Homo sapiens: one gene and its partners. The protein of the gene in region 3 purifies or fractionates together with the protein of the main gene of each other region. This does not show direct contact. Each region holds a gene or a part of one and is shown on either strand. Other genes may lie near its edges. The genes, in order: DDX31, RFC3, DOT1L, POLDIP3, PLEKHS1, SRP9 and DIMT1.

Region 1 (4,252 bases), on a different chromosome or scaffold from region 3:
ACTCATCTACCAGACCTCACCAGCCATTCTTAACTGTTAAATCAATCAAGATAAGGTAAGGATGAAGAAGCAGCATTTTTCCAGTTGAATGTTAACTAATGGAGTCTGTTTTAAGGGAAGCAAGAATCCACCTTGTGAAGGGTGTGTCAATCCATATTCCTAGGAACCCATTCACCCAAGGAGAAAAGAGGGGTGGGGGAAAACGAATCTTTTCTCTCCACCAACAAAGCACACTGGAGACCGCACAGGAGAGAGGGGCGAGGGGGAATGCGCATCTCAGCCCGTGCCCAGGAAGCGGAAACATTCATTACCATTCTACCCTAGCGCCTGGATCTCTCTCATTCTCTCCTCTCAAGCTGCTCCTCCAGATTCAGACGGCCTGGAGAAAATTCCTACGCCCTGTTCCCATTCCAAATGAGAATGCTGCTCCATCCATCACCTCTACCACAATTACTTCCTACCTCCCTTGCCTTTCGAGTCTCTGAGTCCCCGAGTCTCTGCCTGATTGCGGATTACAGGCTACACAGCACTAGGGATCTCTTGCCTGTTGCTTCTTATTTCCATTACAGGAATGTGCTTAAATGCATGATGTCCAAACTTCCCCTAGGAGAAGGAACATCCAATTCCTCTATTTTCTTTGGCCTTCTTTTCTGATTTACAAATGAATATAAAAGCATCCCTTGAGTAGCCAGTGCTTGTTATTCTGGAGTTTTGGGTTCTCTCAGAATATGTTATTTTCCTCTTTGCTTGAAATAATGACTTGGTTTTACATGTCGGCTTTCTTTAGCCATGACTGTCAGCTTCAGACTAACCTACCAATAACAACAGTTCTTTGTTCCCTAAGGATTCTTTTACCTAAGTAATTAAATACAACTTCAAATATCTAATATTAATAAAGTAAAAACGGACATATTCCATCTTACAAATTTATTTTTTACAAAATCTCAAGTTTATGAATTTTCAGATTAAAGAAAGAGATGAAATCAAGTTTCAGGTTTGTTGAATCATTTGCAAGACAGTATGAAATGTGCAGACTTCACCTGATTTACAGACCCAGGACTCCTGGAGCACAAAAACTCTTAAAGGCCACTCCCGCCATACATGGACTTCCTGACAGTCCCGGGCAGGTGGACTGGCAGCCTCTCCCTGCACACCTCCTGCATCCCATGAGGCAGCCCATTCTGTTCATGACCCATTCTAGGAATCAGGAAGCTGTCTCTGACATTTATGCAAGATCTGCATCCTTGAACATCTACCTAATAGTCTGAGGTATACTTTCTGCAGCAACACAGAACAAGCTTACTTCCTCTTAACACATAACATTCCTTCATATATCACATAACTCTCTTTTCTTTCTTCTTTGGACTCAATATTTCAAACAGGACACAACTTTAGATCCTTTATCATCTTGGTCACCCTTTATTCCTATGTCAACATCTCTCTAAAAGCAAGTACTCAGAGTTAAACCCATTAGGTTTTCCATTGCTCTTAGGCTGAACTAAAAAATCTGTAATATTGCCAGGTGCCATGGATCATGCCTGTAATCCCAGCACTTTGTGAGGCTGAGGTGAGCTGATTGCTTGAGGCCAGGAGTTCGAGACCAGCCTGGGCAATATGGTGAAACCCTGTCTCTACAAAAAAATACAAAAATTAGCTGGGCATGGTGGTGCATGTCTGTAGTCCCAGCTACCTGGAGGCTAAGTTGGGGGCATCACCTGAGCCCGGGAGGTCAAGGCTGGATTGAGTCGTGATGACGCCATGATGCCACTGCTCTCCAGCCTGGGTGACAGAGTAAGACCCTCGCTCAAAAAAAAAAAAAAAAAAAAACTGTAATATGATCAACAAAGCCTTCTAGAATCTGACCTCTGGCCACCTCACCAGCTTCAGCTTTACTCTCTGCCACTCGGGTCTTCCTTCAGTTCCTAGAATGTGCTGTGCTCCTTCCTCCTCCTTTGCACATGCTACTCCCACATCCAGGACTCCACTCTGCCCTCTGGCTGGCCACCCTGTACTCATCCTTCAGATGGAGGCTGACCAACTCCTTCCTCAGAAGAGCCTTTCCTGACCTCTCTTCACCCAGTCAAGCCAAGGTGCTCTGTTCTTGGCTCTCCTGGCACCCGTATTCTCCTCCATAGCATTCGACAAAATAATAAGCATAGCACGGAACTCGTTGTTTTATGTCTGTCTTTCCCGTTAGATTGTAAGCTCCACAAGAAAGGGGCCAGTCTGTCCTACATAGCACTGTATCCCCTGTATAGGCCCCTGTCTGGCAGAGTAAGCACTCAACAAATACTTGTAAGATGAATGAATAACACACAATGGAATTATCCCTTTCCACCAGCTGGATACGGTTCTACTACTTGTTAGCTTTTCTCCCCCAGCATCCAAAACACATTCATTTAGCAGTTGTCAAGAAGCTTCGTTCTGAAGATACAAAGTAGATTTGCCAAGCCCTTGAGGAAGTTACACACTAGCAGAGGAGACAAAAGTATAAAGGCATAAATCCAACCTCTACATTGGTGCTACAGAAGAGGTACATAAAAAAGGCTATGAGAGCACCAACAAAAGCTAGACTAACATGGCCTCCTTCTGGCAAAGGAGAGGGAGGCAAGAAAACCAAGAATGCTTCGTGAGGTAGCCTCTGAGCAGAGAGGGAGCAAGGACATATCTGAATCTACTAAAAATTACTACTAAAAATCTAAAATCTACTAAAAATCTACTAAAAAATTCGTTTGAGTCTCTGTTGCCGCACCTGTAAAATGAGGGGATTTTGGCAGATGACCTCTAGGGCCCATCAAGACCTGAGAGTCTAAGATGCCATGGCTTTGATATTAATAAACATACTGAGTAGTTACTATATGCCAAGGAGTATACTAAGTACTCACATGTATTCTCTCATTTATCAACACAGGTACTGTTATCATCTCATTTTAAGATGCAAACATGGAGGCAGAGATGTGACGTAATTTGTCCCAGAATCACTGAAGGAACCAGGCTTTCCCCAGGCATCATGATTCTACATTCTAGAGGCCTCACAACAATACTATAATCCCTTTTATTAACTGCATCCTCTTTGCTTTAGAAAACATGTGTATGCTGGAAACTTACTCTTTCTGCTCAACATTATAGTTTTGCCTTGTATAGTCTTAATCCACATGGATTTGGTTTTTTATACATAGTGCGAGATAAGGTTCCAATTTCAGTTTTTAAATTCACACAACCACACAACCAATTGTTCCAGTGCCACTTATTAAAAATGTCAGCTTTTCCTAAGCAATTTGCAGTGTCATCTCGGTCATGAATAAAATTTCCATTTTTGTATTGGTCTGCTTCTGGGCTCTCTTTTCTCCTTTGCTGGTCAATTTGTACAGTTTTGCACCTTATTCCAGACTGTCTGAAGAAATAGAGCTTCATAATAATTCTTAATTTTTGATAAGTTAAAAAAAAAAAAGAAAACATCATGTGTAGTGATTCCAATTTTGAGTTGTTCTCTAAAAGGACATACACCAAAATGGCAACAAGCATTGTCTGAGTATGGCAATTATGAGTGGGTTTTTAAAAATCTTTTTTCCTAATTTTCTATAATAAATTTGTATTAATATCAGAAATTTTTTTTTGTTTTGCTTTTGTTTTGAGACAGTCTCACACTGTCACCCCAGCTGGAGTGCAGTGATCTCTGCTCACTGCAACCTCCACTGGTTCCTGGGTTCAAGTGATTCTCGTGCCTCAGCCTCCCGAGTGGCTGGGATCACAGGCACCCACCACCACACCCAGCTATTTTTGTGTTTGTTTTTTGTTTTTGTTTTTTTTTTTTGAGACAGAGTCTCGCTCTGTCGCCCAGGCTGGAGTGCAGTGGCGCAATCTCGGCTCACTGCAAGCTCCGCCTCCTGGGTTCACAGCATTGTCCTGCCTCAGCCTCCCGAGTGGCTTGGACTATAGTCACCCACCACCAGCCACCACACCCGGCTAATTTTTTGTATTTTTAATAGAGACGGGGTTTCACTGTGTTAGCCAGGATGGTCTCGATCTCCTGACCTCGTGATCCACCGGCCTCGGCCTCCCAAAGTGCTGGGATTACAGGCGTGAGCCACTGCGCCAAGCCTTTTTTTTGTATTTTTAGTAGAGATGGGGTTTCACCGTGTTGGCCAGGCTGGTCTCCAACTCCTGACCTCAAGTGATCTGCCTGCCTCGGCCTCCCAAAGTGATGAGATTACAGGTGTGAGCCACCTCGCCCAGCCCAGAAAGTATTTTT
Region 2 (4,252 bases), on a different chromosome or scaffold from region 3:
TCTATAAGCACAGGGTTTTTTAGTTTTCAAACCATTAATAACTCTTTTGCTCTTCACAACAAATGCAAAAGTACCCTTGGTGAGGCAATAATAATATCTTCAATATACAAATGAAGATAAAACTCTAAAATGAAGTTACCTGATCAAGAACACTTAGCTAGGAGTTCAGGACAAGAACTAGAAGTCTGACTTATAGTCTGGTGTCTTTCTAGCACATGATGCATCATTGATTACAAAGTTTTACATTGTCCTTTACTAGAAAGCTACGCACATTATCTCTAGCTTTGTGTTGTATGTTAATGTTAAGTAATCTGAGATCCTAAAAGGAAAATTAAAATTAATATAAATTCCACTTTTACATGATCACATGTAAGCCATGATATTACAGCTTAATAAAAGCCATAATATCACACACCAACTATTCTGAACCACTAAATTTCTGAAGTTAAATGCTACATTTTCCTTAAAAAGTTAATACATAGATTCAGGATTTAATTATAATTCAAAATGACATTAGCATAAAATAGTTAATATGTGTCCTATGATATCCTGATAATGAAAGCTTTACTGTCATCATTTTATACTGGTACCTTTGTGGAGTTTGCTGACTGACAATAGCATTTGCAGTCTCCCTCAGATACACCTCCCAATCTGTCTCAGGGATTTCTTGATCTGCAGTAAAAGGATATCTACATGACAAAAAGAGAACACAAGAAGTTAAACAGAAGTGTGCTTATGTCCTAAAACAGGAGTCCCCAACCACTGGTCCGTGCGGTTAGGAACCGGGCTGCACAGCAGGAGTGAGCAGCGGATAGGCCAGCATTATGGCCTGAGTTCCACCTCCTGTCGGACCAGTGATGTTATTAGCTTCTGATAGGAGCGTGAACCGTATTGTGAACTGCTTATGCAAGGGATCTACGCTCCAAATGAAAATCTAATGCTTAATAATCTGAGGTGGAACAATTTCATCCTGAAACCATCCCCCACCCCTGCCCAGTCCATGGAAAAATTGTCTTCCACAAAACTGGTCCCTGGTGCCAAAAAGCTTGGGGGCCAAAGTCCTAGAATGTAACTACCCCTTCCACTCACTGTTGCACTCTGCAGGCTTCACACATAAGCAGGGCTTTTCTGAGATTTCTACAAGACTTCTCTGCAAGTCTATGAGCCAGTTGTGAAGGAAGATTCAGACCTTCCTTCTTACACACAGTAGATAACACGTGGCAAATCTACAAATAAAATTAACAAAAATGGGCAATCCATTAAAAAGCAGATTAAGATTCATTTCTGTTGATATCCTCCTAGACCCTTATAACTGTATTACTCTCAAAATTCTTATAAGTGAAACTTACACTAAAAGTAACTTACCACTCTGCATCTAACACAATGTTGCATATTATCCCTACTTTGCATGAAATCTCCCAAAATCTATTAAAAGCTGGAAAGATATTTAATGTGAGGAATCATAATTTTTGCTGATGGCTGTTAAGAATGGAGAAAAAAATATATCTATGTATATATATTCATATTAATGTTATTTCATACTAACTTTAATTCCCTTCCTAGGGACTAGGTATTCCCACATCATCTCTTTGCAAAATCTGTTTCCTCAATATTCCAGCCTCCTCTTATAGCCAACTAAATCAGCTTGAGAAAGAAGACAGTAAATAACTAGCCCTTACCTAGTTTAGTAGAATTCGTAATACCTACTTGTTCAAAGTAAAGATGGTTTAAAGGGAAAAACACTTTCTATATATTGGCATCTGGTATTTACAACTATACGCTTTGGTTTGTTCACATATTAATGCTTTGCATCCAGGTCTGTAGGTGTTCTTAAATTACTGATACGATTCCCTTCTTTTACAACAAGCATACAATATTCAGAGAATCTGAACTGATTTATTTTTCAGAAAAGTGTAACTTGACCTACATCTTCAATGCTGGGAGCAGGCACACGAACCGCCAAGCACCTACTACGAATAGGTGGGATCACTTTAGATGTAGAATTGCAGCACAAGATCAATCTGCAGGTAGACATATATTTTTCCATGGTTCTTCGCAAGGCATGCTGAGCATCTTTGGTGAGTTTGTCAACTTCTGTCAATAATACCACTGAGTCAAAGAGAAACAAAACAAACTTTAACTTGAGTTCACTCAAACTTTAACTTGTCTCTTTCTTCCTTCTCATTATCCAGGATGAAATCCTAAATAATAAGCCTGATATACTACTCTTCCCATTGGCAAAGATAAAGTTATAAGTATGGTAAAATTACTTTATTATTTTAAAATGCTACAATCATACTCCAGTTTCTCTTCAGATCATATAAATATTTTGCCTTTTACTAAAGACTTCTATAGAGAGGAACAGCTCTGAGTTTTTAATATTGTGAGACCTTGCGTTGGCAGGGCTAGTAAAAAAAAGAAAAGAATCTATAATCAAACAAGACCAAGAAACACTAGGCTAAATGAAGTTAAAAGGTCACTTTGTAGTAGAAATCATTGCAACCTTTATTATTTATATGCGCTAAAATTTACCAAGACAAGGAAGTACTGTGCTGCATTTCCCCAAAATAACTTTACTCAGCAGCACATTTCTGTGGTACACCTTAATCTAAAATATTAAATTCCAAGGAATAGACTTTGGAAGACAGTGGTGCAAGAGATGTAGGCAACAAGGCATGAGGATATCTGGCCACCATAAAGTAAGATTCCATCTGGCCACAATCACAGATCAGCCTTAACATAGTTCAGGAATAATGTATACACAGAAACTGAATCCAATATTGTATTTTTCATTATATTAACAAATTATTTCTAGAAGATGAACTGGCAGCATGTAGCATTTAGATCTGCCCCATAAAAATAAACAGAACAACTAAAGATTCCAAAACAAAGAACCCATGAACATTATACAGAAACCAGGCAACAAGCTTTACCCAAGAACCCCAAACATGAGCAAGTGAGAATAAGCAACTAAAACTGGAAAGGCCCACATAGTATCAGCAACGGTGTGGGAGGAAGATTTTGACAGACTTTATGACAGGAAAAGCTCAAAATCACCCACGGGAACATACTAGAAACCATGGTGCGGCCAATTTGAAAGCAGCAGTTGGCCAGGCACAGTGGCTCATGCCTGTAATCTGCCTGTAATCCCAACATTTTGGGAGGCTGAGGAAGGCAGATCCCTTGAGCCCAAGAATTCAACACTAGCCTGGGCAACATAGCAAAACCCCATGTCTACAAAAATACAAAACATTGCCGGGCATGGTGGTGTGTGCCTGTAGTCCCAGGAGACTGAAGTGGGAGGATTACTTGAGCCCAGGAGGTCAAGGCTGCAGTAAGCTCTGATGGCACCGCTGCACTCCAGCCTGTTGCCACACAGTGAGACACTGTCTCAAAGAAAGCAGCAGTCTTACCGAGGGGGGAGATTCGACAGAGCCCAATTTATGGGTGAGAGCAAGGGAACCCTGATGCAGTAAGGTTTGACAGAACAGCAGACTCTGAGAATACCAAAATGAAGTTCCCTTCTAAGACAGTGTTCCAGGTGGCTGTGGCTGGTGCAGTGGCTTGTGCCTGTAATCCCAGCACTGTGGGTAGCCGAGCTAGGAAGATGGCTTGAGGACAGGAGTTCCAGACTAAGACAATGCTCCACAATGAGAAGAAATCCCAGACCAAATTGAGAACAGGTAAAAGAGAGACAAAGGAAAGAATCCCAATAAAGGTGACAGAAAATAAGATAGGGAATAGAGCTCAGAACACAAGGTCATTTATTTACTTTATTTTTTTATTTTATTTTTTTAGAGACAGGGTCTCACTCTGTCACCCAGGCGGGAGTGCAGTAGCTTGATCATGGCTCACTGCAATCCCAAACTCCTGGGTTCAAGCAATCTTCCCACCTCAGCTCCCAAGTAGCTAAGACTACAGGCATGAGCCTAATTTTTTTTTTTTCTTCCTTTGGCAAGATCGGGTCTTGTTGGTCTCAATTTCCTGGCCTTAAGTAAAGTGTCATATATTTTTTATCACTTTGTAAAAATAATACAAGAGGTAGCTGTAGAGCCCCAGACCTAAAAAAAACTCTCTGGCCTTCCTCTCCTTCCCTAAGTACAGGAAAAATCACTTTACTTTTAACAAAATGACCAACACAAAAGGATCATGGCCAAATTTCAACAGTTATGCAAGAAAGACGAGCAGAGGAGCAGAATAACATCTTTATGGATATGAAAGAGACAAATTATTTCCTAAACTGTTACTTAAT
Region 3 (3,898 bases):
TGGGCGAGTCCAAAGCCCACCGGGCAAGGAGAGGAGGACTGGGAGCCAGGAGCCAAGGCGGAGGCTGTGGCCAGGGCTGGTCAGCCTGGCGGGTCAATGCGGGCACCTGCGGGCTGGACAAGCTATGCTGGGTCTCTTAGGAGATGAGCTGCAGGTAGGGTGGCTTTAGCTGGACTCGGCTGTGTGTCTCCTTTGGAGGAAGGCTGGAGCTTGGCCGGCGTGTCCAGGTGTCAGGCTCCCTGGTCTGTCACGGGGCACGCCCGTCGTCTGTTGTGGTTAGAGGAGCTGGCACTATGCCTGTCATGGTGCTGGCCCCAGGTGGCGTGTGTGCTCGTGGGAGGCCTCGGTCCCCAGCCTGGGTGAGTGTTGGGCTCCCCCAGGCGCGATGGTAACCTCAGGCCGCTCTTCCCGCTGTGCCCTTCTGCAGGTAACTAGGATTTCTACCTCAACCGCGAGACCTATGCAAGGACGGTGTGGACCAACTCGCGCCCGCGGCATGGTGCCCGCCGGCCTGCCGGGCTCCCACCCCTGGACGGCAGAGGCAAGGACGGACGGGAGCTCCACTGTGAATCGGCGGCACGCGCCGCAGGAGGCTGGGACTGGTCCAGTTTGTACTGTCGATAGTTTTAGATAAAGTATTTATCATTTTTTAAAAAGTATAAACAATTCTGACTTATTTTATTCCATCTAAGTGGTAAAAGGCAACTTATTGAGAAATATAAATATCTATATATGAGAGCTCTATATAAAGACACGTGTCTGCAGGGCGGGCCCGCCAGCGGATTCGCCACAGCCTGCCCCGGTGCTATCTCGTCCCCAGGCCCGCGCCTGCCTCCACCCGCTTGGTGCTGACTAGACGCTGACAACGCCGAACCCCGTTCTCGGAAACGCCGCCCGGCCGGCTCCCCCGACGCGCTGCTCCCGTACCAAAGGCAGGCCCGTCGCCACCACATTCCTCGGAGGCCTCCCCGCGGCCTGAGCCCCTTCCTGAGCGCCCTGGCGCCTGCCCTGAGCTCTTCACCTTTACCCCGGCACTGTGAACCCCCAGACTGTTCACCCTCCGGGGCGTGGGTTGCGCCCTTGCATGTGAAGGGGCCTGCGCGGTGACGCAGCTGGCCATGTGCTGCGCGATGGTGCTGTGAGGACGGCGCGGGCACGTTGAACAAGTGCATTTACTTTTGTATTTCTCGGCTGTCCATGGCTCGCAGCATGCCCTGCGATGCGGGGCAGGCCTGTCGTGGGTCCCTTGGTGTTTCTGTACAGGAGAGAGTCACACTAATGAGTGGCAGTATTTTATAGAGATGTGATGAGAATTTATAAATTTCATAGATTTGACAGCTTTTATTTTTAGATGGTATAATGCACAGTGAAGAGGAAAGAAAAGCGAGGGGAAAAAACCTTATTTATTCAAACAGTGCACAAAATGGCCCCAGCGTCAGCCCCGACCCTAGACCCCTCAGTTGCAGCTCCCAGCAGCCCAGACAGAGCTGCCGGCGCCCCTGCCTGCCCCACATCCCTTCCTGTCAGGGCCACGCCTGGCACCCATCCCTTGGAGCCTGTGCTGGTTCTCCCAGCTGCTGTGGGTGTGCTGGGGCCAGGGTGCACTGCTGAAACCTGGCCTCTCTGGCCCTAGGCCCCAGGGTGACGTCGGCCCCCCACTCTGCAGCCTTGGCGGGTGCCTGGGACTGGGTGTGGAAGGAGAGGAGCTGAGGCCGGGGTGTAGCAGGCAGGCAGGGCCACTCCAGTGCTTCTGGAGCCCTGAGCAGTCAGGGCCTGGGTTGTCTGAGCAGTGGTGGCTCTGTGCCCTCCCTGGAGGATGGGATCTGGGAGTCTGAGCTCCCCGCATCTGGCCCTGGGCTGTGTGGCACTTGCTGAGCCCACCTTCTCAAGTGCTTGCTCCTGTGAGATGGCATCGGGGAGCCCCTTCCCCAAGGTGCCACAGATCCACCCTCCAGGGAGCTGCCAGCCCTGTGTTCTGGTTCCCAAGGGCAGGATGGACACACGTCACATCCCTACCACGTGGCCTCCAAAGGGAGCCACGGAGGAAAGGCTTCTGTGGTTGCTAGGTGGGGGAGTCCTGTGTGGGAGGGCCTGAAGACCCCTGCTTGTGCCTGGTGAGGGGGGTGCTGCCTCCCCCAGCCCCCAACAACCTCTCAGACCCCCACCCTCCAACATAGCTGAGTTCTGAAGATGGTGCTCCGGACCTGTCCTCTTAAGTGGTGCCCAGTGCCCTCCCCACCCCACGTTGGTGCTCTCAGCTAGAAGGTGCTGTGCCTCTGCCTGAGCCCCAAGCCCCGAGCCTGGCCTTCAGGACAGGCAGCCTGCTCTGTGTCGCCACGGGCCGGATACGCCACAGGGTTGATGGCAGAGACGGCCGAGTCCCTGGTCTAGAACAAGACACATTCTTTAAACACTGTATTACTTCTGCCTCCCTCTAGGTGACAGTGGCAGTCCGGGTGCCATCACGGGTCCTGCAGATGGCCATGCAGGGCTCCTGCCCACGCAGGCCACCGTATGTTCAGGACACGCACTGGGTCTCAGAGCCACTGGCCCAGGCAGAAGTCTCCTTGAGCCCACTGGGTCATATGCGTGTCACCACACGTGAACTAGTGTGGTGGCTGCCTGCGGACACCCTCCTGTTCTGAGCCCTGGGCCTGTGTTCTTCTCAGACACTCCCAGACTGAGGGGTGGTGTGTGGCGGGTGGCAGGGTGGCTGTGGAGACTGGGGATCTGGAGCCTGGTGCTGGCACCTGGCCTGAGTTTCCGTGGGCAGCTGGCGGGGACCTGTGCTGCTGCTGCTGACTGTGGGTGGGCGGGCGGCGCCTGGGAGTGGCTCTTGCTCAGGAATTGATAGGAACCCTAAAAACTAGGATACCCCCTCCTCGGCCCATGAGGCACGCACAGTGACTTATTTAAGACTTCCCCCTTAATTTATCTGCCCCCAGGATGCGTCAGTCTGTTCAGTGGTCAGCAGGCCCCCCACCCCCCGCCGACTGCCCTCGCCATCGTGGTCAGACCCCCCTCCCAACACAACACGCTGCTGGTCTGTGTCAGCCTTTGTAACGTGGGAGGCTCTGCCGTGTCTTCCGGGTGAACTGTATTTGGATTGCGCGCATTGTCACGGTCCGCCCCTGGGCTGCAGGCGCCCCTTCCTCTGGGCACCCCTGCATTCTGCATCCCCACCTCTAGACGCTGTAATAAACAGACTGTTTTCACTCGGACCTGGTGTGAATGGCAGCCTTTCTTCCAGGTGGCATGAGGCGTCTCCTGGCGGCCAGTGAGAGGCCCCGGCTAGTGTGTCATCGCCGAAACGGGGAGTGGAGGGCCTAGGGGTGCTCCTAGCAGAAGCTCCGGGGGCTGACACCAGGACACCCTGGCCTTGGGGAGGCTTATGAGGGCACCAGGCCACAGGCAAGGGGAGGCTTATGAGGGCACCAGGCCACAGGCAAAGTGCCTTTTGATGAACGGAAAACCAGATCTGCGACCCCAATGACATCGGCAAAGTCCTTTTCACATCAGATGGACCAAAGCCCGCCCAGGCCCCAGCCACACTCCGGGAGGGCCCGTGAATGCCAGAGGCAGGACCCCAGGTCACCACAGGATTCCTGATACCACACAGCAGCTCTGTTCTCCCCAGGCCTGGGTCCCAGCCTCCACCTGTCCTGGCTGGGGGTTCTAGCTCTCCCCTCAGTGCAGGAGGCCCAGCCACTGCCTCTCAGGACCCTGAGCCTTACTTCCCTTGGGTGGGGGCTCCCTGGCTGCCCCTCCCCTCTCCTTCACTTCACCGCCATCCAGTGTGGAAAAGAGGTACCTTTATTTGAACAGAACAAGCACCCTGGCCCCAGGGCAACCACTTCCCCAGGTGCACAGCCAGGGCCCTCCTGTCTGCAGGAGAATT
Region 4 (4,252 bases), on a different chromosome or scaffold from region 3:
TGAATTTGATAGCATAAACCTTTTCCCTTACTACTTGGATGGCTTCACATTGAGTCTCGTTTCTCCCTCACTTCCCACTCATCTCTTCCTGTATGAAGCAAGGTTTGTGGCCACTTTGCCTCTTGGTGCTCCACTGCTGAGGTTTCCTCACGCCCTGGGATTTTCTTAGTGTCTGGCTTGACTGGAACCTAGCAGCCCCATCTCCATCTGTGGAGCCAGAACTGCCAGTGGTGGGTGCTTTGACCATTGATAATGGAGGTACAGCCCTTGTCCTCTTGTGTGAGGAGCCGAGGTCTCATAGCAGAGCCTTTTTCTTTCTTTGGTTTTTCAGGGCAGCCGATGAAGTGCAACCTTCACATGAATGGGAATGTTATCACCTCAGACCAGCCCATCCTGCTGTGAGTTCCAAAGGCGGGGTGCTGGGGAGAGGCAGCTCCGTCCATCTCTTTTTGTTCTAATGGGTAAACTGCCTGCATCACAGCTCCCCTTCATCCCCCCATTCCGTTTCCTCTGTTCTAATGGCAGCTGGCCGTTTCATATGCTTAAACTTGACCAAAATGGTTTGCTTTGTTATTTCCCCAGGGCTTGACCCTATAGGGACTAGCATTATGATCTCGTTCTCAGCTTTCTGATTTAGAAATATCTGAGTGGAAGTTGGAGGGGGAGGCTGCTTGGGTCTCCTAGCTGTGTGCATCATCCCGGGAACAGAGAACTCCACTGCATGATTGGCTCTGATGGAGACAGTGCCAGATGCTACCCCTTATTTTGTTCCCCAGTGAGGTTTTTTGTTTGTTTGTTTGTTTGTTTGTTTTTTGCTTTTTCAGTTATTTTGAGAGTCTCACTGTGTTGCCCAGGTTGGTTTCAAACTCCTGGGGTCAAGCAACCCTCTCCCCTCAGCCTCCTGAGGACCTGGGACTATAGGCGCACACCATCACGCCCAGCTGGATTTGGCTTTTAAGTACAGTGGGAAGCCATTGAAGGCTTTTGTTGCACACAGCTGAGTATACATGCCTGGCCCAGGACTGAGGGATGTTTTGAAGCCTGAGATGCATAAAATGTTGAGACTGTGAGGACTTCACCTTCTAGATAAGGAAGCAGATACCAGGGAGGAGGTTAGACTTGCCAGGGTGAGTGGGATAGTGTGGGGCAGGGCTGAAATAGACTTTGAGATTTAAAAAGACTAGGATTTGAACCCTGGGTAATGAATTATGTGATTTGGATAAGTTCTTAAACTGTGTTCAAGGAATAAGAAATATTTCTTAGGGTTTTGTAACCTAATAAGTTTGGGAACTACTGGGCTAAACAGAGTTACATCTGTTTCACTTTCGGGCTTCTCAGATTGTGTAATATGCTAATGGATGTTACCATCCAGAAGGAACATGCAGTGTTTCCTAAACTTAAAACCACAATTAGCCAGGTGTGGTGGCATGCACCTATAGTCCCAGTTACTTGGGGGGCCGAGGTGGGAGGATCGCTTGAGCCTGGAAGATCGAGACTAGTGAGCCATCATCATGCCACTGCACTTCAGCCTGGGTGACAGAGTGAGATTCTGTCTCAAAAAAACCCCACAAAACCCTAGAACATACAGCACTGCCTGCGTCTCCATTTTCTCATCAGTAAATAAGAAAAACACAGCCTGGGCCACATAGCAAGACCTGGTCTCTACAAAAAATTTTAAAAATGAGCCAGGCATGGTGGTACACGCCTGTAGTCCTAGCTCCTTAGGAGGCTGTGGCAGGAGAACTGCTTGAGCCTAGGAGATGGAGGCTGATGTGAGCTGTGATTGAGTTTGCTGCGAGGTGGAATGAGATGAAGGGGTATGGAAAGTGTTACACCCAGTGCCTAGCTCATGACAGATGCCCAGTAAATGGTGGGTCCCCTCCCCATCTAAGGAAAAACTGACAAGAATTTTTGACTCTTCTCTGCTCTCCACAGGCGGCTGAGTGACAGCCCATCAATGAAAAAGGAGAGCGAGCTGCCTCGCAGGGTGAACTCTGCCTCCTCCTCCAACCCCCCTGCCGAAGTGGACCCTGACACCATCCTGAAGGCACTCTTCAAGTCCTCAGGGGCCTCTGTGACCACGCAGCCCACAGAATTCAAAATCAAGCTTTGAGCAGGGGAGTGAGGCAGCCAGAAGTGGGGGCAGAGGAGGGTGGCTCTGTTTCCCCAAGGCAAAGCTTATGACCAATGGGCCATCGGACTGGAGACCCCTGATTGTGGGAAGGGTTGCCAGGGATAAAGAGCTTCCTCACTGGATGGGACCCGCCTTTCTGTGTTGTGTTCTGCCCTGTGCTCTTCTCTCTACGTTAACGTTTCCTGTAGTATGTTTCTTCATCTCATCGCCAAGGTAGGCTTGTGTTTTTCAGTGTGTGCCTCCCCGAGCCTCAGCCCCAAGCTGATTTCTTATCTGGAAATGGTACACTGAATTCTCTGGGTGGCTTTCTTGTGGCCCCATGGGATGCAGCGTGGGGGCTGTCTGAAGGACCCTGCTTTTTCCAGGGGCCGAGGGGCTGCCTTTCCTTTGTGTGTATTAAGCTTTTCAAACAATGGAGGGGATGGAGAGCCCTGGTGTCCTGACGGGAGCCAGGTCGGCCTGAGAGCTGTGCCGCTCCTCTGTCTTGTCAGTGGAGGTGCCTGGGTGGGGAGCAGGTCTCAGGCCTCTTGTCCTCTCCCCAGTGGCTCCAGGCCTCACTAGTGGCAAGGGCAGGATGAGGCTGCACCGCTGGGAAGAGTCTATCTAAGCTCTTGGCTTGGAGTCCCGTGTCGTCTCCACCCAGAGGAAGTTCTCCAGAGTTCACCTTTCCCTTTTCCTTGAGTTGTGCTGAATGCCCCACCCCAGCTCTCTTTCCCTTCTGGGTGTCTTTGCTGGGAGGGGGCTGTGTTGTGAGCCCTCCCGGTTCTCACCTCGCCTGGCACTTAACCACACCCTGGTTTTGTGTAGCCGCCAGCTCTCTTCTGGTTGGGCCTTTGAAAGGCTCAGCCTCCCATTGTGCAGTGCTTGGGTTTGGAGCTTATTTGAATGGAAGAGGTCAGTTTGTTCCTGGCTCTCCATTTCTGGCCTCAGTTGTCTACAGGACAGTGGTCAGGGATGCCTGGAGGCATATATCCAGCTGCCACCAAGGGGCACTGTTTGTTCCCACTTATGTGAGTGACCCCATCCATCCATGACCAGAGGATTATTTTCCTGCCTTGGCAGAGGAGGAGGAGTCAAGGGAGCAGGGCAGCTCTACCAGGCAAGGTGTTTCCCCAGCATAGGCGCAGACAGTTGGGACGAAACTTCAGAGCCCAGGCAGTCCCTGAATGACCAGGCCAGTGTTGTCACTGAGTGGTCCCCTGCTGGTTGGGAGTGAAGAGAATCCAGGCTGGCAGAGCTGGAGCCAGTTGGGGAGCACGGTTCTGGGAGCTCTGCAAAATCAGTAGCAAGTGCTGGAAAAGGCACATGCCGAAGATACTCAAGAGCTCCCAAGATTTGCTTGAGGCTAGCCCAGTGAAAAAAACCAGAGACTCATGTTTCCAGGGGTCAGTCTGTCAGGCAGGAAGGACCCAGGATTTGAACCCAGCTTCAGTGTGCAGGCTCTGAGGCTGCCCAGGACGGGAAAGTCCAAGGAAGGGGCCTGGTGGTGCTCCACTTGCAGTTCTTTAAAGAATGCTGCTTTTTATTCTCCTAACCCTTTCAAGTGGGTGCAGACTTCTCGTTAGCAGCTGGAAGACATTCCTCCCACACTTTTCCCTTCCTGGCCCAAGAGAGCATCCAGAAGGCAGTAGGACCTGGTTTTTCAGGTACTGGGAGCCGGGGGCTCACTGCTTGCACTGTGCTTAGGGTAGGGATGGTAAATATCCTCCCTGCATGGCTTTATCCTCCCTCTCATCCCAAAGCAGGTATCTTCTGGTTGTCACAGAGTTTCATTGAGTCCAGCTGCAGCCACGTGGCCATCTGGAGCTGGTGCTATAGGTGACCATCTGGTACATTGAGGGGACCTGTTTGCCTCCTCCACTCTATAAGCAGTCATCTTGGGAGACCGGGAGGAGAAGGTGGTGGGCTAGTCCTGTGTCCTCCTCCACTTCCCATGCCTCTATGTTACCCATCTGTGTCTCCTGTGCAGAAGGAGAGGAAGGGGCATTAAGAGATGAAGGGTGATTATGTATTACTTATCCATTTCTGAATAAACATTTGTTATTCCTACCTTTGAGTTATCTTTTTTTTTTTTTTTTTTTTTTTTTTGAGACAAAGTCTCACTCTGTTGCCAAGGCT
Region 5 (4,252 bases), on a different chromosome or scaffold from region 3:
CTGAAGGAAGTTTTGAACCCCTCAAAGTCATCGAGGAGTATTGGAATCCACTTCCTCCAGACTCCTGTTGATGTTGATATTTTGACCTCCTTCTAGGAATCATGAATATTTTTATGACATCTAGAATGGTGAATCCTTTCCAGAAGGTTTTCAATTAACTTTGCCCAGATCCATCAGAGGAATCACGATCTACAACAGCTATAGCCTTATGAAATGTATTTCTTAAATAATAAGACTTAAAAGTTGAAATTACTCCTTGATCTAGGGGCTACAGAATAGATGTTGTGTTAGCAGGCATGTAAACAGCATTAGTCTCCTTGTACATCTCCATCAGAGCTCTTGGGTGACCAGGTGTATTGTCAATGATCAGTAATATTTTGAAAGGAATCTTTTTTTTTCTAAGTAGCAGGTCTCTGCAGTGGGCTTCTAGAAATATTCATTAAACCATGTTATAAACAGATATGCTGTCACCCAGGCTTTGTTGTTGCACTGATAGAGCACAAGTAGAGTAGATTTAGTATAATTCTTAAGGGCCTTAGGATTTTCTAGCTTTTAATTGAAAGTGAGAGACATGTAACTCACCTTTCACTTGACACTCGCCTTCACTTAGAGGCCATTGTAAAGTTATTAATTGGCCTAATTTCAATATTGTTGAGTCTCATTGAATAGGGAGGTCCAAGGAGAGGAGAGAGATGGGGGAATAGCCAGTCAGTGGAGCAATCAGAACACACACAACATTTTTGAAGTTCACCATCTTATATGGGCACCATTCATACTGTCCCAAAACAATTACTCAAAGATCACTCATTGCTGGTCACTCTAATAGATATGATGATGATGAAAATGTTTGAGATATTGCAAGAATTGCCAAAATGTGACACAGAGACACTAAGTAAGCATATGCTCTTGAAAAAATGGTCCCAGTAGACTTGCTCAGTGCAGGGTTGCCATAAACCTTCAATTTGTAAATAAAAAAAAAAGCAATATATGCAAAGCACAATAAAGTGAAGTGCAACAAAATGAGGTCTGCCTGTATTTGATATGTGTGACACCTGGGAAATCATCAAGATGGTAAATGTGGCCGGGTGCGGTGGCTCACGCCTGTAATCCTAGCACTTTGGAAGGCTGAGGTGGGCAGATCACTTGAGGTCAGGAGTTCAAGACCAGCCTGGCCAACATGGTGAAGCCCCATCTCTACTAAAAATACAAATATTAGCCAGGTGTGATGGCCGGCACCTGTAATCCCAGCTACTCAGGAGGCTGAGGCAAGAGAATCACCTGAACTGGGAGGCAGAGGTTGCAGTGAGCCAAGATCATACCACTGCACTCCAGCCTGGGTAATAGTAAACACACTCATCACTCTTGATGTTTTCTTGTGCCTGTTTGTAATCCTTTTCTGCACACCCAATCCCAGTCCCCATTGTTCTGTTTTCTCTCACTGTAAGTTTGTTTGTATTTATTAGAGTTTAACATAAATGGAATCATACAGCATACACCCTTTTGTCTGACTTTTTTCACTCAGCATAATTTTTTAAAAATATATCCCTGGTATTGAGTGCACCAATAGTGCAAAAATAGTTCATTTTTTTGATGAGTAGTATTCCATTATATGGATGTACTACAATTTGTTGATTCATTCACCTGTTGAATATCCAGGTTGCTTCCAGTCTTCGCCTATTATAAAGCTAATATGAACATTTGTGCATTAATTTTTGTAAAATCATATATTTCTTTATTTTACCTAGAATCAAAATGGCTGGGTCATATGGTTGGAGTATGCTTACTTTTCATTCAAATTTGTTAGATTTTTTAAAAAGCTTTATTGAGGTATAATTGACATACAGTAGGCTGACATGTTTAAAGTCTACAATTTAATAAGTTTTGGCAAATGTACACAGCCATAAAATTATCACCTAAATCAGGATAATAAGCATATTCATCAACCTCACAAGTTTTCTTGGTCCCCTGCCTCCCACTCTTCCATGCAGTCATACTTCCCCAGACAACCCCTGATCTGCTTTCTATCCCTATATGTTAGTTTGTATAGAACTTTATATAATCATGCAGTATGAACACTTTCTGTCTGACATCTTTTTCACTCAGCATAATTATCTTGAGATTTACCCATGTCGTTGCATCTGTCAATAGTTTGTTTCTTTTTATTCCCATATAGTATTCCATTGTATAGATGTATCACAATGTGTTAATCCTTTCACCTGTTGATGAACATCAGGGTTGCTTCCAGTCTTTGGCTATTACAAATAAAGCTGCTATCAACATTCATGACCAGCTTTTGTATTTGTATATTCCTTTACTTAAGAGTAGAATGGGCCAGGTGTGGTGGCTCACGCCTATAATCCCAGTACTTTGGGAGGCCAAGGCAGTAGTATTGCTTGAGCACATGAGTTCCAGACCAACCTGGGCTACATCTCAAAAAAAAAAGAAAAAAGTTATAGCCATCCTAGTGAGCATGAAGTGGTTTCTTATTTTAATTTTGATCTACATTTCCTTAATGACTAAATGTATTGCACAGCTTTTCTTGTGCTTATTGGCTATTTGCTTATTTTCTTTAGAAGAATGTCTGTTCAAGTTCTTTGTTCACTTTTTAGTTGAGTTGTTTGTCTTTTTGTGTTGCATTGTAAGAGTTCTTTATATATTCTGGATAGTAGGCCCTGGTCAGATATATGATTTTTGAATATTTTATCCCATTCTGTAGGTAGTCTTTTCACTTTCTTAATAATATCCTTTGATGCACAAAAGTTTTTAATTTTGATGAAGTCTAGTTTATCTTTTTTGTTTGTTGCTTGTGCTTTTGGTATCATATCTAAGAATACATTGTCAAATCCAAGATTATAAAAATTTACACCTATGTTTTCTACTAAAAGTTTTATGGTTTTAGCTCTCATGTTAAGGTCATTTATTTGAGTTAACTTCATTATTTGGGATGACATAGGGGTCCAAATTCATTCTTTTGCATGTGAATACTCAGTTGGCCCAGCACCATTTATTGAAAAGACTGTTCTCTCCCCATTGAATGGCCGTGACCACTAATGTATGGGTTTGTTTCTGGACTCTGAATTCTATTCCATTGGCCTATGTGTCTTATCTGTCCTTATACCAAAACGACACTCTTGATTATTGTAGCTTTGTAGTAAGTTTTGAAATTGGGAAGTGTGTGTACTCTTTGTTCTTCTTGAAGATTATTTTGGATATTCAGGGCCCCTTGGTATTTTTGATGATTTTGAGGATTAGCTTTTCTAGTTTTACAAGATAAAAAATGCCATTGGGATTTTAATAGAGATTGCATTGAATTTATAGATTGCTTTAGGTAGTATTTATATCTTAACAGTATTAAGTCTTTCAATTCATAAATATGGAATGTTTTCCCATTAATTTATGTCTCTTTATTTCAGCAATTTTTCTAGTTTGCAGTGTACCAGTCTTTTTATCTGCCTAGTTAAATTTAACCCTAGGTACTTTTTTCTTTTGGATGCTATTGTAAATGGAACTGTTTTCATAATTTTATTTTTGGATTATTTATTGCTGGTTTATAGAAATATAGCTAATTTTTGTCTGTTGTTCTTGAATACTGCTGAATTTATTAGCTCTAGTAGTTTTTGGGGATTCTTTGGGATTTTTAACATATGAGATTATGTCACTTGCAAATAGAAATGATTTTATTTCATTCTTTTCCATTTGGATGTTTTATTTATTTTTACTTATTTTGGATGCATTTTTTAATGTTTTAAATAAGTTTGCTAAGAGTTTTCAATCAAGAAGAGTAATGCTAGCCTCATAGAATGAGTTGAGAAATATTCCCTTCTCTTCAATTTTTTTGGGAGGCTTTGTGTAGAATTGATTATTTCTTGCTTACATGTTTGATCAAAGAGAACAGTACAGCCACTTGGGCCTATATGAAGAATTTTTAACTACAACTCCAATTTCTTTAATAACTATAGGAGGCTATTCAGGTTATCTATTTCTTCTTCAGTGACCTTTGTTGGTGTAGTTCAAGGAATTTTTCAGTTTACCTAAGTTGCCAAATTTATTGGAATAAAGTTGTCTATAATATTTCTTTATTATCCTTTTAATATCAGTAGACTCTGTAGATATGTCCCCTCTCTCCTCCTAATATTGGCAAATTGTGTTTTCTCTCCAGTTTTTCTGGTCTATCTGCCTAGGTAGAGGTTTGTTAACTTAATCTTTTTAATGGATTAACTTTGGTTTCATTGGTTGTCTCTGTTGTTTTTCT
Region 6 (4,252 bases), on a different chromosome or scaffold from region 3:
ACACAACCACACCTAGCTAATTTTTCTATTTTTAGTAGAGACGGGGTTTCTCCATGTTGCCCAGGCTTGAAGATATTACTTTTAAATCAAACCAAATTCTTCCTTGTTAGCAGTTAAATTCTTCACTAGATACTTAAGATCTGCTTATGGTTGGTCATAAAGCCATCTGTTGTAGAATCTTCAAAAACAGCAACTTTAAGCTGGCAGCCCTTTCCTCATTTTGTAGTACAGATCCACTTTTCTTCAGCCCATCTTAAAGGTTCACATGAGTTTTAAACAACAGGAACTAATGATCCTATAATAAAAGTCAACAACTTAAATAACTTGAAGTTCAACCTCATCATGCCCAACTGATTTTTTTAAGTGAGCCTTTTAAACAACTCACTTAAAAAAATTTTTATCCACGCATTGTACAAATTTGTGCGGCAATCTTGTAAAAAGGCCATATTAATCTTCATCATCAAAATTTTAGCACATGTCCTATGAGAGAATGTACATACCTTCTCACTGAAATTTCTGACAGAAAAAGATTTTAGGTCCATAGAAGACAGTATTCTAAATCAATTATGGGATTAGAAAAATGATGGATACATGGGATTATAAAAAAGTCGAAGTTAACATGGATCCTTAATTATATTCAATCATTAACAGGGCAAAAAGAGCCATCAATTGGAGATAAGGCCTTTTGTATTAAAATTCGTTCTGCATTTATTCCCTTATTTTATTTTTTTTGAGACCGAGTCTAGTTCTGTCACCCAGGCTAGAGTGCAGTGGCACAATCTTGGCTCATTGCAACCTCTGCCTCCCAGTCCCAGGTTCAAGCGATTCTCCTGCCTCAGCCTCCCAAGTAGCTGAGATTACAGGCACCCACCACCATGCTAATATTTGTATTTTTAGTAGAGACGGGGTTTCACTGTGTTGGTCAGGCTGGTCTCGAACTCCTGACCTCATGATCCGCCCACCTCAGCCTCCCAAAATGCTGGGATTACCAGCACGAGCCACCGCGCCCGGCCTATTCCCCTATTTTTAAGACAGGACATAGGGGTTTTTCTTCAGCAAGTATACCTAACCACTCTGTGACAATCACAATTAAAATTTTTCTGTGTGGAATGTCAAGATTTAAGAAGTACTTAGTGGTTCACACCCATAATCCCAGTGGTTTGGGAGGCTAAGGCAGAAAGATGGCTTGAGTCCAGGAGTTCCAGATCAACCTGGGCAATATAATGAGACCCTGTCTTGACAAAAAAATTTAAAAATTAGCTGAGTGTGGTGGTGCACACCTGTAGTCTCTGCTATTCAGGAGGCTGAAGCAAGAGGACCGCTTGAGCCCAGGAGGTCGAGGATGCAGTGAGCTATGATCATGCCACTGCACTGCAGCCTGAGCAATAGAGCAAGACACTGTCTCTAAAAAAAAAAAAAAGCAATCAACCAACCAATCAACAAACAAAAGAATACATGTACTCAATCTACCAAGGGTAAGCACTCATGTTAGATACTTTCATATATTTTTTTACTATCACTATGATACTTTACAGATGAGGAAATTGAGACCAGAAGGCTAAATTTTTGGCCTAAACTTTTCCAAGGCCAAAATGCTAGTAAATGACTAAGCTAGGATTCACATCTCTTCAATCTATGTCTAGTATACTACATCTCGATTCACTCTTCCTTTTCCACATGTTTAGCTACTCACTACATTCAATTGGTTCTTAGAAGACATGGTAATCACTAAAAGGTCTAACTTCATGCAGTCTCATCATAATGGAACCCTGAACACAAATACAATATATGACCAAAGACAAAAAGTGATTTTTAAAATCACTCTATAAAATTTTCAAAAGAACTAACTATTTAAAAAATGTTTACTGAGTGCTCTCTGGGTCAAGACATCATAGTAGGCAATGGAAATAAGACATGTAAGAATATTACTGATCTATCTCTATTGTCTTGAAGGGCAGTCTATTAAAAAGACAAATGTGATAAAAGAATTGTGATACAGCACAAAAAGCCAAAATGAAAAGCAAGAAATGAAGTAATCCTCAAGTTGGGTTTTGAAAGATAAGCAGCAGTCTGGCCACATTAGGGGTGGAGGTGGGATTCAATATTGCAAAGGAGGAAACAGAATGTTTGAAAGCACTGAGGCCTAACACATCACAGCACATTAAAGGAGCTCTTACATAATACAGAAATGACAGAGATTAGAGAGGATGCAAGGGTGGAGTTTAAAGGTTTCTAAGCAAGGGAGTAACAATCAAATTAGCCTTTCAGAAATCACTCTGGGGCTGGGCGTGGTGGATCACACCTGTAATCCCAGCACTTTGGGAGGCCGAGGTGGGTGGATCGCTTGAGGTCAGGAGTTCAACTCCAGCCGCCTGGGCGACATGGTGAAATCTCATCTCTACTAAAAATACAAAAATTAGCTGGGTGTGGTGGTGCCCACCTGTAATCCCACCTACTTGGGAGGCCGAGGCAGGAGAATTGCTTGAACCCGGAAGGCAGAGGTTGCAGTGAGCCAAGAATGAACCATTGCACTCCAGTCTGGGTAATAGAGCCAGACTCCTTCTTTAAAAAAAAAAAAAAAAAAAAGTCCAGGCACAGTGGCTCACGCCTATAATCCCAACACTTTGGGAGGCCAAGGCGGGCAGATCACGAGGTCAGGAGTTCGAGACCATCCTGGCTAACAGGGTGAAACCCCGTCTCTACTAAAAATACACAAAATTAGCCAGGCGTGGTGGCGGGCGCCTGTAGTCCCAGCTACTCAGGAGGCTGAGGCAGGAGAATGGCGTGAACCCAGGAGGCAGTTTGCAGTGAGCCGAGATTGCGCCACTGCACTCCAGCCTGGGCGACAGAGCGAGACTCCATCAAACAAACAAACAAATAAAAAGAAAAGGCCAGGCGCAGTGGCTCACCCCTGTAATCTCAGCACTTTCAGAGGCCAAGGTGGGTGGATCATGAGGTAAAGAGATGGAGACCATCCTGGTCAACATGGTGAAAACCCCGTCTCTACTAAAAAAAAAAAAAAAAAAAATTAGTTGGGCGTGGTGGTGCACGGCTGTAGTCCCAGCTACTCAGGAGGCTGAGGCAGGAGAATCACTTGAACCCAGGAGGTGGAGGCTGCAGTGAGCAGAGATCGCCCACTGCACTCCAGCCTTGCAACAGAGCGAGACTCCGTCTAAATAGAAATCACTCTGGGCTGTGCACTGTGGCCCATGTGTGTAATCCCAGCAACTTGGGAGGCTGAGTGGGAGGACTGCTTGAAGCCAGGAGTTCAAGACCAGCCTGGGCAACATAGCGATATCCTGTCTCTAAAAAAATTTTTTTAATTAAAAAAAATCCCCAGATTTCTGACCACGTGGAAAATAATGCAACTAAAGGTAGGAAGGTAGGAACAGAAGAAGCAGCTAGTTTTTTTGTTTGTTTTTTTGAGATGGAGTCTTGCTGTGTCACCCAGGCTGGAGTGCAGTGGCACGATCTCTGCTCACTGCAAGCTCCACCTCCCAGGTTTATGCCATTCTCCTGCCTCAGCCTCCTGAGTAGCTGGGACTACAGGTGCCCGCCACCATGCCTGGCTAATTTTTTTGTATTTTTAGTAGAGATGGGGTTTCACCGTGTTAGCCAGGATGGTCTCGATCTCCTGACCTTGTGATCTGCCCACTTGACCTTCCAAAATGCTGGGATTACAGGCATGAGAAAGAGCTAGTTTAAGAACAGATGATAGGCCGGGTGGGGTGGTTCATGCCTGTAATCCCACCATTTTCGGAGGCCGAGACGGGTGGATCACGAGGTCAGGAGATCCAGATCATCCTGGCCAACATGGTGAAACCCTGTCTCTACTAAAAATACAAAAAAAAATTAGCTGGGCGTGGTGGTGGGTGCCTGTAGTCCCAGCTACTCGGGAGGCTGAGGCAGAAGAATGGCATGAACCCGGGAGGCAGAGCTTGCAGTGAGCCGAGATCACACCACTGCACTCCAGCCTGGGCGACAGAGCAAGACTCCGTCTCAAAAAAAAAAAAAAAAAAAAAAAAAAAAAAAAAAAGAACAGGTGATAAACTCCACTGTAGATAAGTGAATTTTGAGGGTATGTGAGATACAGATGCTAGTCAGAAAGTCAGAAGAATATGAACTAAACACACATTTGCAAGTAGACATAGACAGATGCAGTATTAGACTCAGTTAAATGAACTGCTCCAGAAGCTGTTATGAAAAGACAATCAAGGACAGAATCCTAGAGAAGCACATATATATGGGGCAC
Region 7 (4,780 bases), on a different chromosome or scaffold from region 3:
ACAAATCACACACAGGGTTTTGTGTCATGTTAATTTTTTTTTTTTAAACAGGGTATCATGCTGTCGCCCAGGTTGGTGCAATCTTGGCTCACTACAAATTCTCGGGCTCAAGTGAGGCTCCCACCTCAGCTTCCCGAGTAGCTGAGACTACAGGCCTGCACCACCACGCCTGGCTAATTTTTGTATTTTTTGTAGAGACGGGGTCTCACTTTGTTGCCCAGGTTGATCTCAAACTTCTCAGCTCAAGTGATCCGCTCGCCTTGGCCTCTCAAAGTGCTGGGATTACAGGCATGAGCCACCTCTCCAGGCCATGTCCATCCTATTAACATTTGGAAGTGCCTAGCACAGTGTACTCTTTAGAATTGTGGAATAACAATGATTGATGAAATGAAACATATACTTGAAGATGCTACTAGGGTATACGAGATTTTTTTTCTGACTTAGAACTACATCAAAGAAAGAAGGGCCTAAGACCAAGGTTTGGGAATGTACACAATGAATTGCTCAAAAGAGAGTTAGCTTTAGTAATGACAGGAAGAAGCTATTTCTTCAACCAAACAGAATACACACAGAAAAATTTAAAAGAGCCATTACACTGGCTGGCAAAACAGATGTGGATATTATGGCCCTGGTACACACGGAGTTTATAGTCAGGTACACTGTCCTGTCACAACGACCAATACGTTATCGTATTTACAGCGTTTTGGAGTTTCTGTCCATCTCTGTCAATATAATACACTTTGAAATAAGTTTCTTACTTAGAATCCCTAGCAGTGTTTGATACACAGTTGGAGCTCAATAAATGTTTACGGAGTGAATGATGAGGCACAAAAGGAATTTGTTGAATTATTTGTTAAATGAATCAAATAATTTTCTAGGATTCACGGGCTGTCTTCTGCACGATAAGCTTCATTCTGTGGGTCTGAGTTTCTCCTGGTTCTCAATTCTGTCTTTTTGTGGATTATCTACTTTGTAGCTGGAGCTTTGTATCTGTTTAAGATAATTATTCTTCTATTCCTTTTTTTTTTTTTTTTTTTTTGAGACGGAGTCTCGCTCTGCCGCCCAGGCTGGAGTGCAGTAGCGCGATCTCGGCTCACTGCAACCTCCGCCTCCTGGGTTCACGCCACTCTCCTGCCTCAGTCTCCCAAGTAGCTGAGACTACAGGCGCCCACCACCACGCCCGGCTAATTTTTTGTATTTTTAGTAGAGACGGGGTTTCCCCGTGTTAGCCAGGATGGTCTCGATCTCCTGACCTTGTGATCCGCCCGCCTCTGCCTCCCAGAGTGCTGGGATTACAGGCGTGAGCCTCCGCGCCCGGCTCTTCTATTCTTAGTAGAAGCAACCAGTAGCCCTAGCGAAACCAGACGTTAATTCCATTCTCGCAGTTCTTTTCCCCAGGGCAAGCAGCAAAAAATGCATTCCCACAAAAGAGCAAGCTCATCCCCAAATCCCGGGTTTCCCACCCCCACAAGCTTCAGGAAAACAGGAGCGAGGCACGTGAATACTTCTTTGGACCTCAGCGATCCCAGAACCTAGGCTACTAAAACATCCATAGGCTTAACCTCATCATATAACTTAAACAGCCTTCGCAACACCGAGAGCACCACACCAACACCTTCTTATCCAGCCCTGGTTGGGACAAGGGCTCCAACTCCAGACTGCAGTCCTCGGTAGCGCGGTGTCTTCTGGGATCTGTAGGCTCCCGCGGTTCGGCCTTCCTCCCTCTGTGACTCCAATTCCCGGCAGTCAGTGGGCTCCAAGGTCCGCCCTTTTTCTGGAGGAGGAGCTCAGAGCGTACGGGAGGGGGCGGACCCTTGCCCCTCCGGCGCTTGGGCCAGAGTGGTGCGGGCGGCGCGTGGCGGCGATCCCCACGTGGTGGCTTTCTCACGCTAGCCCTCTTTGGTCCTCCTTGACGTCCCGGGCCTGTGGGCCCGCTTTCTGCCGAGATGCCGAAGGTCAAGTCGGGGGCCATCGGCCGCCGCCGCGGGCGGCAGGAGCAGCGCCGGGAGCTGAAGAGCGCTGGAGGTGCGGATCCCCGCGAGGAAGCTGGGGTCGGTCGGGTCAGGTCTTCCGGCAGGACCTAGCCTGGGGTGCGGACCAAGACCTGATCGGCAGAGGCCGGTCAGGACGCGCTCCCGTGAGCGCGGAAGGCAGGGGTGGGTCCCCGACTCGGCCGCAGGCCCTGCGCGTCGCCGCTGACTTCCTTTCCAGCTGGAGGATGAACTTATAAAGAGTTTGTCAGTCCTGGCGTGACGTTTCGTGGCCCTGGTTGGCGCAGAAATCTTCCCCATACCCATGCAGCTTTCTTCTCTGGTACTGCCTAATATCTAATCTCAGTAGGAAAATTAATGCTGTTTCGTATTTTCTTACAGGACTCATGTTCAACACGGGGATTGGGCAGCACATTTTGAAAAATCCTCTCATTATTAACAGCATTATCGATAAGGTGGGTGTGGAAGAGGAAAGGGAGAGAGTTGTTGGTTTATTAATTTTATTCCTATGAATACATAAGCGCAGAAAGTCTGCCTGCCGTAAATTAGATGCTCTGTAAATATTTGTTGAATGAATCAAATAATTGTCTAGGATTCTTGGGCTGTCTTCTGCATGATAAGCTTCATTTTGTGGGTCTGAGTTTCTCCTGGTTCCCAATTCTGTGTCTTTTTGTGGATTATCTACTTTATAGCTGGACCTTTGTATTTGTTCAAGATAATTATTCTTCTATTTCTAATCACCTTTTTGATCACTTAGTTTTTATGTACTCCATCTATTTATGTCTAAACTACACATTAGAAAGTTTGTTCCCCAGAAAAACATATAGTACTACATATAAATTATTTGGTGTATGCTAGTACCACATATAAATTGCTTGGAGTATTACTGCTTTCTGAGTTATTGATGTTCTCTTATGGTTATGGATGATTGGGTGTTAGGAAGTGAAATACACACGGTGCAGATTACACTTATGGTTAAAAGCAAGGAAAGCATCCTGGAGCTGTAGAAAGAGCATTACATAGTTAAAGGATCTTGTCAGGCTTCGTGTCATTTGAAAACTGAGAAAAAAAGAAAGAAGGGTCATGTACTATTTTAACCTTTTTAGCTCATAGTTTCCTTTGAGCATCTGATGAAAGCTATGGCCGTAGAATATTAGAGCTGTGTGCAGACATTCAATTTTGTGTACAGTTTCTGCTCTTCTGCATCCTTGAAACCATACATGGGTTGAAAATTGAAAAATCTTCGCCCAACACGTACAGTCCTTTCCCATTTGAACTTGTTGATACGAACAGAGAAGGTAACAAGAGGCTATTGGAATATTTCCAGATAGAAAGCAGAATGCCAATCCCAGAAATGCTGTTGCTGCTTTTCTGACTCCTAAAGTTGAACAGTATTCCTCCAAGTTAGGAGAGGTCTTAGATTTTCATTTGCACCAAATGTTATTGAGGTAATTTTGTTAACCACGTAGATCATGAAGAAATCTAAAAATGGAGTCAGATTAAGAGCTCTTATCGGAGCACATATGAGTAAAGATGTTCAGGTGTAAATTAACTTCTGTGTTCTGATGTTGCCAGAAGAGCTAAAGTGTTTGTGCTTGCTTTTAGGCTGCCTTAAGACCAACTGATGTAGTGCTGGAAGTTGGACCTGGAACTGGCAACATGACTGTAAAGTTGTTAGAAAAGGCAAAAAAGGTAGAAAGGGGATTTAATGTTTGGTATCACAAATGACTATGTTAGCAAGCTCAGTTGGTTTACAATCTAAATATGTTTTAACTAATTGCTATTATTTTAGTAGTAACTCCTGATCCCTTGTTGGAAATTTTGTCTTAGAAAATATGAGATATTTCAGCCAGGCGCGGTGGCTCACGCCTGTAATCCCAGCACTTTGGGAGGCCGAGGCAGGTGGATCATGAGGTCAAGAGATTGAGACCATCCTGGGCAATATGGTGAAACCCCATCTCAACTAAAAATACAAAAATTAGCCGAGTGTGGTGGCAGGTGCCTGTAGTCCCAGCTACTTGGGAGGCTGGGGCAGGAGAATCACTTGAACCCGGAAGGCAGAGGTTGCAGTGAGCCAGGATTGCACCACTGCACTCCAGCCTGGTGACAGAGTGAGACTCTGTCTCAAAAAAAAAAAAAAAAAAAAAGGAAAATATGAGATATTTCAGTGAGGAAAACAGAAACCACATTAGGTATTTCAACAGGGAATTTTTTTTTTTTTTTTTTTTTTTTGGAGAGGGAATTTCACACTGTTCCCCAGGCTGGAGTGCAGAGATGCAGTCCTGGCTCACAGCAACCTCTGCCTCCTGGGTTCAAGAGATTCTCCTGCCTCAGCCTCCCCAGTAGCTGAGATTATAGGCACCTGCCCCCACACCAGCTAATTTTTGTATTTTTAGTAGAGATGCGGTTTCACCATGTTGGCCACACTGGTCTTAAACTCCTGACCTCAGGTGATCCGCCAACTTTGGCTTCCCAAAGTGCTGGGATTACAGGCATGAACCACCATGCCCAGCCTCAACAGGGAGTTTAATTAGGAAGGAAATACCCAACGCCTCCCCTTTGTACCCTATAATGCTGGTGCCTTTCACTGGCCAATTCCAACCAGAAGTTGAAAGGTAAGGGAGCTGAACTGCATTATCTGTAGGATGCAGAGAAAAGCGGATAATAGATCTGGGAGGGCCTTTCATGGTGGCTCACACCTGTAATCCCAGCACTTTGGGAGGCTAAGGCGGGTGGATGGCTTGAGCCTAGGAGTTGAAGACCAGCCTGGGCAACATGGTGAAACCCCA

Evidence for each region.
Region 1: the proteins of DOT1L (region 3) and DDX31 purify together in Homo sapiens (affinity purification with mass spectrometry, with the first as the bait; one study listed by BioGRID). This does not show direct contact.
Region 2: the proteins of DOT1L (region 3) and RFC3 purify together in Homo sapiens (affinity purification with mass spectrometry, with the first as the bait; one study listed by BioGRID). This does not show direct contact.
Region 4: the proteins of DOT1L (region 3) and POLDIP3 purify together in Homo sapiens (affinity purification with mass spectrometry, with the first as the bait; one study listed by BioGRID). This does not show direct contact.
Region 5: the proteins of DOT1L (region 3) and PLEKHS1 purify together in Homo sapiens (affinity purification with mass spectrometry, with the first as the bait; one study listed by BioGRID). This does not show direct contact.
Region 6: the proteins of DOT1L (region 3) and SRP9 purify together in Homo sapiens (affinity purification with mass spectrometry, with the first as the bait; one study listed by BioGRID). This does not show direct contact.
Region 7: the proteins of DOT1L (region 3) and DIMT1 purify together in Homo sapiens (affinity purification with mass spectrometry, with the first as the bait; one study listed by BioGRID). This does not show direct contact.

Annotation. Positions count from the first base shown.
Region 1 is NC_000009.12:132,662,911-132,667,162, forward strand, and holds part of DDX31 (ATP-dependent DNA helicase DDX31), read right to left. Parts: intron 508-4,252; exon of another isoform or gene 462-507; intron 417-461; exon of another isoform or gene 315-416; coding exon of another isoform or gene 312-314; intron 1-311. UniProt on the Homo sapiens protein: May have DNA helicase activity and RNA helicase activity. Probably have ssDNA and RNA dependent ATPase activity. Plays a role in ribosome biogenesis and TP53/p53 regulation through its interaction with NPM1.
Region 2 is NC_000013.11:33,827,693-33,831,944, reverse strand, and holds part of RFC3 (replication factor C subunit 3), read right to left. Parts: intron 2,110-4,252; coding exon 1,928-2,109; intron 1,227-1,927; coding exon 1,090-1,226; intron 690-1,089; coding exon 591-689; intron 1-590. UniProt on the Homo sapiens protein: Subunit of the replication factor C (RFC) complex which acts during elongation of primed DNA templates by DNA polymerases delta and epsilon, and is necessary for ATP-dependent loading of proliferating cell nuclear antigen (PCNA) onto primed DNA.
Region 3 is NC_000019.10:2,229,358-2,233,255, forward strand, and holds the end of DOT1L (histone-lysine N-methyltransferase, H3 lysine-79 specific), read left to right. Parts: exon of another isoform or gene 1-427; coding exon 428-435; 3' UTR 436-805; coding exon of another isoform or gene 806-1,255; 3' UTR 1,256-3,221; downstream 3,222-3,898. Other genes in the region: PLEKHJ1 (pleckstrin homology domain-containing family J member 1), read right to left, coding at 806-1,255. UniProt on the Homo sapiens protein: Histone methyltransferase. Methylates 'Lys-79' of histone H3. Nucleosomes are preferred as substrate compared to free histones. Binds to DNA.
Region 4 is NC_000022.11:42,583,652-42,587,903, reverse strand, and holds the end of POLDIP3 (polymerase delta-interacting protein 3), read left to right. Parts: intron 1-331; coding exon 332-398; intron 399-1,935; coding exon 1,936-2,113; 3' UTR 2,114-4,183; downstream 4,184-4,252. UniProt on the Homo sapiens protein: Is involved in regulation of translation. Is preferentially associated with CBC-bound spliced mRNA-protein complexes during the pioneer round of mRNA translation. Contributes to enhanced translational efficiency of spliced over nonspliced mRNAs.
Region 5 is NC_000010.11:113,758,043-113,762,294, forward strand, and holds part of PLEKHS1 (pleckstrin homology domain-containing family S member 1), read left to right. Parts: intron 1-4,252.
Region 6 is NC_000001.11:225,784,014-225,788,265, reverse strand, and holds part of SRP9 (signal recognition particle 9 kDa protein), read right to left. Parts: intron 1,405-4,252; coding exon of another isoform or gene 1,297-1,404; exon of another isoform or gene 1,281-1,296; intron 1-1,280. UniProt on the Homo sapiens protein: Component of the signal recognition particle (SRP) complex, a ribonucleoprotein complex that mediates the cotranslational targeting of secretory and membrane proteins to the endoplasmic reticulum (ER).
Region 7 is NC_000005.10:62,400,939-62,405,718, reverse strand, and holds the start of DIMT1 (dimethyladenosine transferase), read left to right. Parts: upstream 1-1,813; 5' UTR 1,814-1,946; coding exon 1,947-2,025; intron 2,026-2,372; coding exon 2,373-2,446; intron 2,447-3,596; coding exon 3,597-3,683; intron 3,684-4,780. UniProt on the Homo sapiens protein: Specifically dimethylates two adjacent adenosines in the loop of a conserved hairpin near the 3'-end of 18S rRNA in the 40S particle.